Linked DNA regions of Homo sapiens: region 1 is linked to region 2. Evidence: fine-mapped expression QTL. A gene starts in region 2. The other region holds a variant in brackets. All regions are shown on one strand. Distances are between the middles of the regions.

Region 1 (5,368 bases), 140 kb after region 2:
ACTGCACTCCACTCCCTTTTGAATAACTCTTGGTAGTCAGATCTCGCTATGCCTAAGTCATTAAGTTGGAAACAGAAGCCTAGAACATGGACCCCACGGCCGGCCAAGATGAGCCATAACACACGGACTGAAGAATTTGAATTTGATGAGTACTTAGGAAGGAGGGCTGGGGCTTGGAGGCCAGGCTTGGTGCTCTTGTGGCAGCCTCTGATTGCCCCAAAAGGCCTTCCATGCCAGGCCCAAGCCCTAGCCTGCTGGGGAAGGACATGTGATGAGCAGTGAGGAGAAGCAGCCACTCAAGCCGAGTCTCAGTGATAGGGAGAAGCGGAAAACTTCTTCTGTAAGGCTTTCCCAGGACCTTCTCTGCAGAGCCTCTTCTTAAGCCCCAGCCTCTTATCCTGTTTGTCAGGATGGCTGAAAGAGTCCCTGCTCAGGGCTCTGCAGATCTTTCTTGGGCTGTGGAAGGTGTCTACAGTTGAGTTGAGCTGGAATGATGAGGAAGCAGAGCCCCGTTCTCTCCTCTTCCTCCAGAGTGTGCTCTCGTCAGTCTCTGTGGTCGGTGACTTGGGTGAAGCATCTAACACAGAGGGCTGTGGCTCCTGCCAGTGTGTTTGCTCCATTCAGGCCCCCTTGGCCCTAGGCCATGAGCTACCATCTGAAAAATGGGGCCAAGAAGGCTCACCTTGATTTTTGACTACCCTGCTAAAGACTTTTGGACTCAGGTGACCTGACTGAGAGGTTCCTAGAATCCCGAGTCCCTGGGAAGGGCTGCCTCCCCCTCTTCCAGTCAGGATTCTCCAGGCTAGTTGCCTTTTCTGTCACCAGGAATTGGAATTTAAATAAATAAAGGGCTGAATTTCAGTGGTGATGTTTAACTCTTTTCCCAACTCAGTACAGCCGAGGTACATAATGCACACCTACTAGTAACAGCAGCTGACTGCAGAAGGGATTTTTGGTGGAGAAAGCGGGGCCCATTAGGATCTCCAGGAGCTCTAGGCAGGCATGCGAGTCTGACATGCCCCCTTCCTAAGAATCACTTGGCCAGAGACTTATCTATTGGAAATTAGAACTGGCCTGCCTATAGAAGGGGTGAGTAGAGACCCCCTCCTCTATACCAGGGGCTTCACAAAGGGACTTTGGTCCTTTCTCAACCAAAAAGAACCAGGCTTCTGAAGGCATGGACAGCTGGGCAGCATGTGCACATGTATATAAGTGTGGTGGCAGGTCCCGTCTATGATGTGGGGCAGGGGCGGTCCAGGAGAGGATGCTGCCACAGCTCCCAGGGCTTCTCCTTGTGGCAATGCATTCACTGCCTCTATTGTGAGGGGAATGGTGATTTCAGTGCCTTAAAGCTTAGTGACAAGTTAAGACGCTGGCAGTGTCCCAACCCCATGAGTCTCTGTGCCAGAGGTTGGTGGGGGAAGGGAGAAAGGAAAGGAGGGAGAGGATGTCACTGTCCTCAAACCGAGCTTCTCTGCTCCATGCTATCCTGGGGGCTTCAGGTGAATGGCTGCGCTGTTGGGGCGAGCAGCCAGGATGTAGAGGACATTCTCTTGCAGGAAGGTAGGCCAGTCCACAAATCTGGAGTGGAAGCAAAGAACAGAGTCGTGAGGCTGGTTTGAAGACACGTGAGCCCTGATCCCAGGGGCAGCATGGCTTGAGGAGGCTGGTTTGAAGACGCGTGAGCCCTGATCCCAGGGGCAGCATGGCTTGAGCTACACAAAACTCAGGGAAGCTTGGCTCATGCCTGACCTGGCTATGGCTGGCTGTGCTACCAGGCCAACAGACCAGCTGGCTGGTCCTATAGACTTGGGTCAAATGTGCACTCTTGGAGCCTGGTTTCTTGGGTGGGCGCTTGCTGTTTTGGAGTGGGAGTGGGTAATGCCCTCTCTTACTTGTGTGTTTTGTGGGGGTTCAGAGGGTACAAATGGCCAGGTGAGGAGGTCCTACTCACCTGGACTCCTGCTCTGTGGGCAGCAGGGTCTTGTCCTGACTCTTGCTGCTGCTGCTGGCTGGGCTGCTATCTGCGATGGGACCCACATGGCTGATGCTGCTGGGCATGAGGACACGTGGTTAGGAGTGGGATAGTGAAATGCCTGCCCCCTCCCAAACTCTGGTAAGCCCAAGGCTCTGGACATGCTCATCCAGGCTCTTCTGACATGTGGCAACACCGAGTTGAAGGCAGAGGCTGTCCTATGCCCTGGCCCGTAGGCATCACCATCCTCTACCTAATGCACAG[G/A]AGGCTCCTCTCTCGGCTGTTGGCAGGGGGAGCAGGGAGGTATGGAAGGGCCACTGGCATGGAAAAGGGAGGAGGAGAGGCTGAGTGGGGACCAGGACTGGTAAGGAGCAGACCTGACACTGCAGGAAGGAGCCTCTGGGAACCGTTTGCAAAACCAAGAGTGCTGGGCCCGGCGGCACTCTGCCTCACTGACGGTGCTCCCACTGCCCCGAGCCAGGAAGGCGGCTCGGGCTCGCTCCCGCTCCTTCACTGTCAGAAGCCTCAACAGAGAGTTCTGGGGAAGAAGAGACAAGATCTTAGAGGTGAAGATATCTTGTAAACTGCCAAGCCATAGAGAATCCTATCTCCATTACCACCTTTGCAACCTCCCTTAGAAGCTGCCCAGAGCCCTTCTGGAGGCATCAGCACTTCCAGTGCGGCCCAGGGCAGATCAGTCTTCCTCACGCAGTTTCCTCAGCCTGGGCACCAGATCATCTGTCACTGGATGGAACCTGAGCCCATTCCTGATACTTGTCCCTGCTTGAGCAGGACCCAGTGCTCCCCCAATCTGCCCAGCGTGCCTCCCAGGCCCTTGTCACCCAGTATCCCAGGAACATTTGCCCCAACTGGCCCTCACCTGGGGACGCAACTGCTGCAGAAGCAGGAGGGACTCATGGGACAAGAAGTCAGGCCACTCTATGTGGCCTCGATGTTCAGGGTCCAGGGCAGCAAACTGGCGGGCCGCCTGCTCTTCTTGCTCCTCACTCAGGGCCCTGTCACGGTCCCCCCGCTTGGCTGCTTGGTGGCGGTAACGCAGAAAGTCCTCCAGTGTCAGGGAGCAATCTGTGGGAGGCACCCCGTGCTAGCCATGCCCATCCTTCCTCAGCCTCAGGGCACCTCCATCACCTCCAGGGCACCCTCGGGGCCCCCAAACCCACAGCTCTTGCTAAGTCTCTGCCTCCCATGGCCAGGGTCACCCAGGCTGTGACAGGGATAGGTGACTCTGCTGGCCAACAACTCAGGAACAAGGACTCATTTACCCTCTACCCACTAAATATGGAACACTCCTTTCATGGTTCATTCTAGAAAGCCTGAAGGAGAAATCTGCCCGGCCCCTCTCCATCCATGCAGCACCACCCAACCTTACCAGGGATGACTTTACACCGCTGAAAGGTCTCCGTGAGGCTATACATTTCCTCCTCAGTAAGCAGCAAGTTGATGTTGTCCTGAAAATAAGGAAGAGCTGAGTCGGTGGCCATACAGGCCAGTAAGAAAGGCCAGGGTCAAGGGGGCTAGAAATAGAATTTCAACTGGAAAGCAGTTCCAAGATCATCTAATCCCAGCCTCCTATTCACAATCAATGAGATTGAGGCCCCAGAGAGGAGAAAGGACTTGGCCAGAGTTGTCTTTACTCTGGGGCAGAATCTTCCCCAAGAACCCAGATATCCTGACTCCAGCACTGAGTCCCTTTACTAAAACAGTGGTTTTCTCCTCTGAGCTAACCTAGGGATTTCTTGGAAGTGCCTTAGGAAGCTGCTGCAGGGAATAAGGGGGCTAGTGAGTAGGCAGGTTGTGAATCCCTATCTCCATCAAGCAGAGCGGCTCCATCTCCATCCCTTTTATCTACTTGGCTTCTGTGTTAGGCTGTGCTAAAAATGTATTTTAGTTAAAAAAAAAAAAAGTTTAATCCTAGCTCTGCTCCAAGTGGGTTGTATCACTTTAAATAACCCCAGAATGGTTTTAAAAGATGCCATTATTACAAGGCTCCTAAAGCCAAATGAGTTTTTTTGTAGTGCCACAGAAGTTTTAATTCCAAAGGAGCACCAATATCTTATTGTGTTGACGTTACCATACAGTCTTTAAACTATCAAAGATCCTTTCTAGTACAAGGTCATTTTCTTCCTCTGAGATACCCGCAAAGTACAAGAGCAGATATTTCATGAGTATTCATACGTGGATTTCATAAAGAACTCAAACCATTCTTTTTCTTCCATAACACTTTTTAAAAACTAATATATAATAGTTGTATTTTTCTTTCAAACCATACTTTCAATAAACACCTACTGAGCACCTAGTAAACACTGGGCGCCACAGTGGTGTGTAACACTGTGAGATGTTCAGTGTGGCTGAGGTTTGGAGTACATGTGAGTGTGTGTGTGAGGGAAGGAGGGGGCCTACTATGAAGTACCTCCAATACCCTTTATCGAGCCCCTCAAATTAGGCCTTTATTCTGAGGGCAAAAGGGAGCCACCAAAGGGTTTTCAAGTGGGGAGTGCCGTGGTCAGATCTCTGGCTGCTGTGTGGAAGATGGATTAGAGCGGCAGAGTCTGGAGGTGTGGAGAGCAGTTGGGGGCTGCCGCAACAGTCCAGGCAAGAAATGATGAGCAGCTAAACTGAGACATGAGAATGAAGAAGGGAAGAGAGATATTAGAGGCAGCATCATCAGGACCTGATGACTCACTGGATGTGAGGCATGAGGGAGAGATTGAACTGGAATTGGTAACTGGGGCATGGTATTACTATTCACAGAGATAAGGAGTGGAGGAAGAGCAGGTTTGGGGGCAAAGATGAGTTCATTTTGGGGCATGATGAGTGTGAAGTACTTGTGAGATATCAAGGTGGATAAGTGCAAGAGACAGGAAATTTAGGTCTGGACACACAGAAATAGGAGTCATTAGTGTTTAGATGGTGGCTGTAGATGAAGTCACCAAAGAGGGCGCAGTGAGAAAAGAAGAGTATTAAACAACAGAACCCTGAGAAACAGGACTGAGACAAGAAACTAACAAAGGGCATTGAGAAAGAATGGTCAGAGACTAAGGCTGGAAGAGCATCAGTAGAGAAGAAGGTACTGGATACCAAGCAAAGACAGCTGCAGAATGTGGGAGGTAATGTTAACGGTGGTTACACCACTGAGGTGGGATTTTATTGACTTTCTATTTTCTCTCATTTCCATATCTTATGCAATAATTCTCATAAAAATACTTAAATCCTAAAGAAAAGAGAGAGGAATAAAGAAGTAATAAATACTTCAGAGAGATCAAGTAAGAAGATGCCTCAGAAAAGGTCAGTGGACTTGACAATTAGGAGGTGACTGGTGACCTTAGGAAGCAACAGTTCTGCAGAATGATGGATGCAGATGTCAGATTATAT
Region 2 (5,368 bases):
TGGGCGAAAGAGCAAGACTCTGTCTCAAAACAAAACAAAAACTGTTAAGGTCATCAAAAACAAGGAAGTTTGAAAAACTGTCACAGCCAAGAGGAGCCAAAGGAGACATGATGTCTAAATGTAATGTTCCAGCTTGGGTTAGATTTTGGCACAGAAAAAGGACATAAGGCAAAAACTAAGAAAATCAGAATAGGCCGGGCGCGGTGGCTCACACCTGTAATTCCAACACTTTGAGAGGCCGAGGCGGGTGGATCACCTGAGGTCGGGAGTTCGAGACCAGCCTGACCAACATGGAGAAACCCTATCTCTACTAAAAATACAAAATTAGCCAGGCGTGGTGGCACATGCCTGTAATCCCAGCTACTCGGGAGGCTGAGGCAGGAGAATCTCTTGAAACCAGAAGGTGGAGGTTACAGTGAGCCGAGATCTTGCCACTGCACTCCAGCCTGGGTGAAAGAGCGACAACTCCGTCTCAAAAAAACAAAAAGAAAATCAGAATAAAGTGTGGGTTTTAGTTATTGTTAATGTATCAATATTGGCTTATTAATTGTAATAAATGAACCATATAAGGAAAGATGTTAATAATAGGAGAAACTAGGTGTAGGGTATATATGAAAACTCTCTGCACTATTTTTACAAGTTTTCTGTAAATCTAAAATTGTTCTAAAATTAATTTTTTAAAGTCAAATAATTTACCTAAATCTATACAGCTAGTAAATACTCAAAGGTATGAGACAAACTCATAAGTTGAACCCATAAGTTGAAGTTTGAAGTTGAAGTTGAAGAAGTTTAGATGACTTCAAACTCTGTGGTTTTCCCACTACCCAAAACCTTTCTTAGTTTACCCTTCTGGGATTATGTAGGCATTTGTATCACTGTCTAAATAATAAGTTCCTTATGGCCAGAGAAAATACTTTTTTCTTTCTTTTTTTTGCGCTTCCACACCACTGACGTTGAGTAAACCAGTTTAAGTTAACTACTGACAAAGTCACAGAGCCTAAAGAATCTGAGATTTGGCCGGGTGCTGTGGCTCACGCCAGTAATCCCAACACTTTGGGCAGCCGAGGCGGGCGGATCGCTTGAGGTCAGGAATTTGAGACCAGCCTGGCCAACATGGTGAAACCTGTCTCTACCAAAAATACGAAAATTAGCCCGGCCTGGTGGCGCGCGCTTGTAATCCCAGCTACTCTGAAGGCTGAGGCAGGAGAATTGCTTGAACCCAGTAGGCGGAGGTTGCAGTGAGCCGAGATCGCACCACTGCACTCCAGTTTGGGCGAAAGAGCGAGACGCCGTCTCAAAAAAAAATAAAAAAGAATGTGACTTTTGTAGAACTTGATCAAATCCAGACCCAAACGGTCCGCTCCTCGGAGAGGCCACAGATCGGCGCTGAGCTGGGCTGTCTCAGTTCTGCAAGTGTCCTGTGCTGCCATCTACCGGTGTCTGGGAAGCGTCGCCCTCCCTTATTGTATCTCCTGGGGAGAGGTTGGAGAGGGCGCCGCTTAAACTGCAGAACATATGTAACTGTCATGCAGTTCATTAGACACCTGTACAAGGGAAAGGCCTCACTTTTCTCCAGCAATTGCAGGCCCTCCTAACTCCATATCAACACTCATCTCGTAAAATTCACAGATCTCGCTGACCTGCCTCAGTAGGTACTGATCTGACTCCTACTGTCCATCCCATCCCAGAACCCACACCCGCCTGCACAGCGTAGGCTTCAGAAACTGCTCAACCTCGCAGACCTGAACCCCACCGCCCAGATTCCCTCATTTTCACAGACCCCTGAGATTCCTTGCACTACCTTGCAATCCCTACGGACCTCCCCTATTAGTGCAAATGCACGCGCCCACCCAGACATCCCTACAAAGAGGTTAGAGTTCCGGCGGCAGCTCACACCGGTGCGAAAGCAGCGAGATAGCCCCAACCCGGCTCAGAGCCCTCAGGCTGGTGGCTTTGGCCCTGGCTCCATCTCCCCACCTCTGCCCTGATCCGCTCCGCTCAGGCTAGCAGCCTGCCGGCCGAGGCCCCGCCCCTCTAGACTTGTCATCACAGAAGCCGCACGTGGCCGGGGTGGGACCTCAGGCGACCTGCGACCATCACTTTGTCTCCTCCTTCCTCCTTTGGGGCCGCCACCGCCAATCAGAGCCAGCGGATCCTGGTTGGAGTGCGACCGCCCGGGTGAGGCGTGAGGGAGAAGGGGCGGAAGGAGGAGGGGCTCTGAGATGGGAGGGGGATCGTGGTGGAAGGGTCTTGGCGCGACTTCTGCCAGGCTGGAATCCGAGGGGGCGGGTCCTGGTGAAAGGCGGAGAGACCGAGAGGAGGCGGGGATCGGGGGTGGGGCCTGGGAAAAGCTGAGGATCCTGGGGAAATGCAAAGAAAACGCGAAGGAGGTGCGAGGTCAGAAGGGGGCGGGGCCCGGGCTACAGGGGAGGAGCTCGAGAAATTAAACGAGGAAAGGGACAAGTCCACAGAAGGTGGAAGGTGGGACAAGGGAGAGGGTGGGCCCGGGCGTTGCGGGGGCGGGGCTCAGACTGAAGGGGCGAGGTTTGCAGGCGGAGGCTACAGCTAGGGCTGCTCAGTAACTGCCCCAACCACTACCACGTCCCCAAGTGCAACGGGACCCACGGAACTACAGGTGTGGGGCAGGGTGAGCGTGGAAGAAGGGACGCGGATGGGGGTGCGCTTTGCAGACGATCTGGAGACTGCTGTGTGTTGAGGGAAGATACGAAGTCGCGGGAGCAGTTGGGGACTCAATGTGTGGGCAACAAGGTGCATTCTCCAGAGGCCTCTATGGGGGAAGGGCGGGAGCGCTTTGTTGTGGGGGGGTTGCGAGGTACATTGTGAGGGGGCTGTCTCTGTCTGATGTGGGGGGTTGGAGGAGGTACATGAGGGGCAGGGGACATGGAGGTGCTTTGAAGGAAGGGGGGCTGTTTAATGGAGAAGGAGTGTAGCGGTGTCGGAGGGTCTGCGGGCACTATCTAGGGGAAGGGGTTGTAGGCCCAACTTGAGGCAGGAGAACAGAACCCCCAGTACTTTGACAAAGTAACAGTTTAGGGCATTGTAGTAACTACAGGAAGACACTTGTGTTCTGGGTTCTAAGAGCAAGGGTGTTGGGGTTAGTGGGGTGAAGAGGCCAATCTATTGCACTCCTGTCTGCTCAGCTTTTAACTCCGCCTTCTGGCCTGGGCACTCAGAGAGGAGTCAGACCCTGCTTGTCACTAGGGCTTGTGTGAATGTCTCCTCAGTCTATTTTGGATCTGTCCAGCTGAGACTGGGGTTTCTTCCCTAAGCTGAGGTCCCGGGGGACCCTTCCCCCGCTGGGTTCCTGTCAACCCCCCATCCTAGTTCCTGTTCCTCCCAGAGCCGGCCTTGGTCTCTGTCTCCCCCCTCCCCCGCCCTGCCCTTATGCTCTGGGTGTGCTCATTTCCCACTTCCTTCCTTGCCCCAGGGCCTGGCCTGGCCCTTGCCCATCTAGGAGCTGTGCCCTGCCCGGTACTTTGTTATCAATGACCAGAGACCCTGGTAACCAGCGGCAGGGCTCAGACCCCACCCCCACCACTACCACCCAGGTCTCTCGCATAGATCCCCAAGTGACTGGTAGCCACATTTAACCACTTGCCACAAACAGATTTTCCCCACCCTTATCCTTCTGGGTAGGGAACGCTAGGGCTTCTGTGGGAGGGGGGAAGTGGTGAGGAGTATTGAGGGTCTTCTGTCTGTTTTGAGAGGTGGGCCACGACTGTAAGCTGAACCCAGTAAGGGTTGTGAGGTTCCAGCCACAGCTAGGGGAGGAAGAGGGAGTGGCTCCCCACACTCCAGGCTTGGAAGCACTATCAGAACAGGCTAGGACCTAGTTCTCTTGAGGGCTCCTCTGCTTCCCTGAGGGGATTTGATGGAGTGCTAGAGTTCTTTTTGCCCCTGGGCTGGCTGGGAGAGGGTGGGAAAGGCTTGAGTTCCACACAGTGGCTAAATGAGTGTGACAGTGTTGCTAAAAGGGGCCCCAAGCCAGCCTCCTCACACAACCACCCAGGAGCTGAGAGACTGGCTGGGGAGGGGGGTGGGTCTGCTGAGGACAGACAAAGCCCTGGGGTAGGGTGGGGTAAAAAAGGGCAGGCTGAAGCCTTTTGAGGAGGAGCTGATTGCTATGGCAACACTGCTTCCCAGACAGTCTCTCAGAGAGGGCGGGCCTAGGGCAGACTCTCCAGCTTCCTCAGGACTGGGGCGGTTTGTGTGAGTGGGTGGGGCATGAAGAGAAAGGGCATCAGTTTGCTGTGCTGAGACTGGAGGATATAGCCTTTCTGCTTTGGTACAGGCAGCAGAGCATTCGAATGCCTGGAGCTATCCTCTGATATGGAGATGAGTGAACAACAGTCATTAGAATTGTAGAGCTGCAGAGGCCCTCAGCAGTCATTGTTTATACAAACACCTCATTTTACAGGTTTGGAAATTTATGGCTAAAGAGACTGTGATTCCCCAGATGTCACAGTGAAAGGGCAGAAGATAGGATCCAGATCGCCGGATTGCTGTTCACTCAGCCCAGGGCCTGTTGTTTTCTTCAGTCAATGTTTATTGAACATTGCCAGGGACTAATGTTGGCTCTGGGAATATGAGCATGAACGAAACAAAGTTGCTGCTCTCATGGAGCTTCCATTCTATTAAGGGGAGAAAGAAATTGTGGAGGGGGAGGGAGAAGTCAAGTAGTGATAACCGCTATATAAAAAAAAATAAAGCAGGATAAATTTAGGGCAGGAAGGTAAGGCCTCTTTATTTATTTATTTATTTATTTATTTATTTATTTATTTATTTATTTTTGAGACGGAGTCTCACTCACTCTGTCACCCAGGCTGGAGTGCAGTGGTGCGATCTTGGCTCACTACAACCTCCGCCTCCTGGGTTCAAGTGATTCTCCTGCCTCAGCCTCCTGAGTAGCTGGGATTACAGGTGCGCGCCACCACACTCAGCTAATTTTTGTATTTTTAGTAGAGACGGGGTTTCACCATGTTAGTCAGGCTGGTCTCGAACTCCTGAGCTTGTGATCCGCCCACTTTGGCCTCCCAAAGTGCTGGGATTACAGGCGTGAGCCACCGTACCTGGTGGTAAGTCCTCTTGGTTGTACCCTGCTGCTTTCCCAGGGTACACTGAGGCCTGGAACATCTTTGATCCTTCACCCTGAACTATTGTCCTCTGACCTTTGTAGGTAACCAAGGCCTGGCCTATGGTAGTGGCAGAAAGATAGAATAAGGTGGGGTTGCTAAGGGATTATTTTTTTCCTACAGTGTTCTACGTCTCTGTTTTCCTAGTAAGTTTTTATTAAGGCAAGTAGGCTCTTACATTGATACACTGTAATTTTGACAAGGGCATTGAAAAT

What was found. PIP is the estimated chance that this variant, and not a neighbour inherited with it, causes the effect. A credible set is the group of variants that fine-mapping cannot tell apart.
Region 1: its variant is the best candidate, but not a certain one, in a credible set for the expression of ATOSB in whole blood (TOPMed, PIP 0.53).

Annotation. Positions count from the first base shown.
Region 1 is chr9:34,974,228-34,979,595 of GRCh38, reverse strand. It overlaps PHF24 (PHD finger protein 24), which reads right to left. Exons shown (of 8, transcript NM_015297.3): 4 at 3,366-3,444; 5 at 2,856-3,061; 6 at 2,353-2,513; 7 at 1,955-2,050; 8 at 1-1,581. The coding sequence ends at 1,485. Among named protein-coding and RNA genes, the nearest start is that of DNAJB5-DT, 12 kb to the left of the region's middle. The variant G/A (reference allele first, on the strand shown) is at 2,240.
Region 2 is chr9:35,113,072-35,118,439 of GRCh38, reverse strand. ATOSB (atos homolog B) reads left to right here and starts at 2,578. Exons shown (of 9, transcript NM_025182.4): 1 at 2,578-2,635. RefSeq lists a silencer at 2,374-2,433 and an enhancer at 3,767-4,596.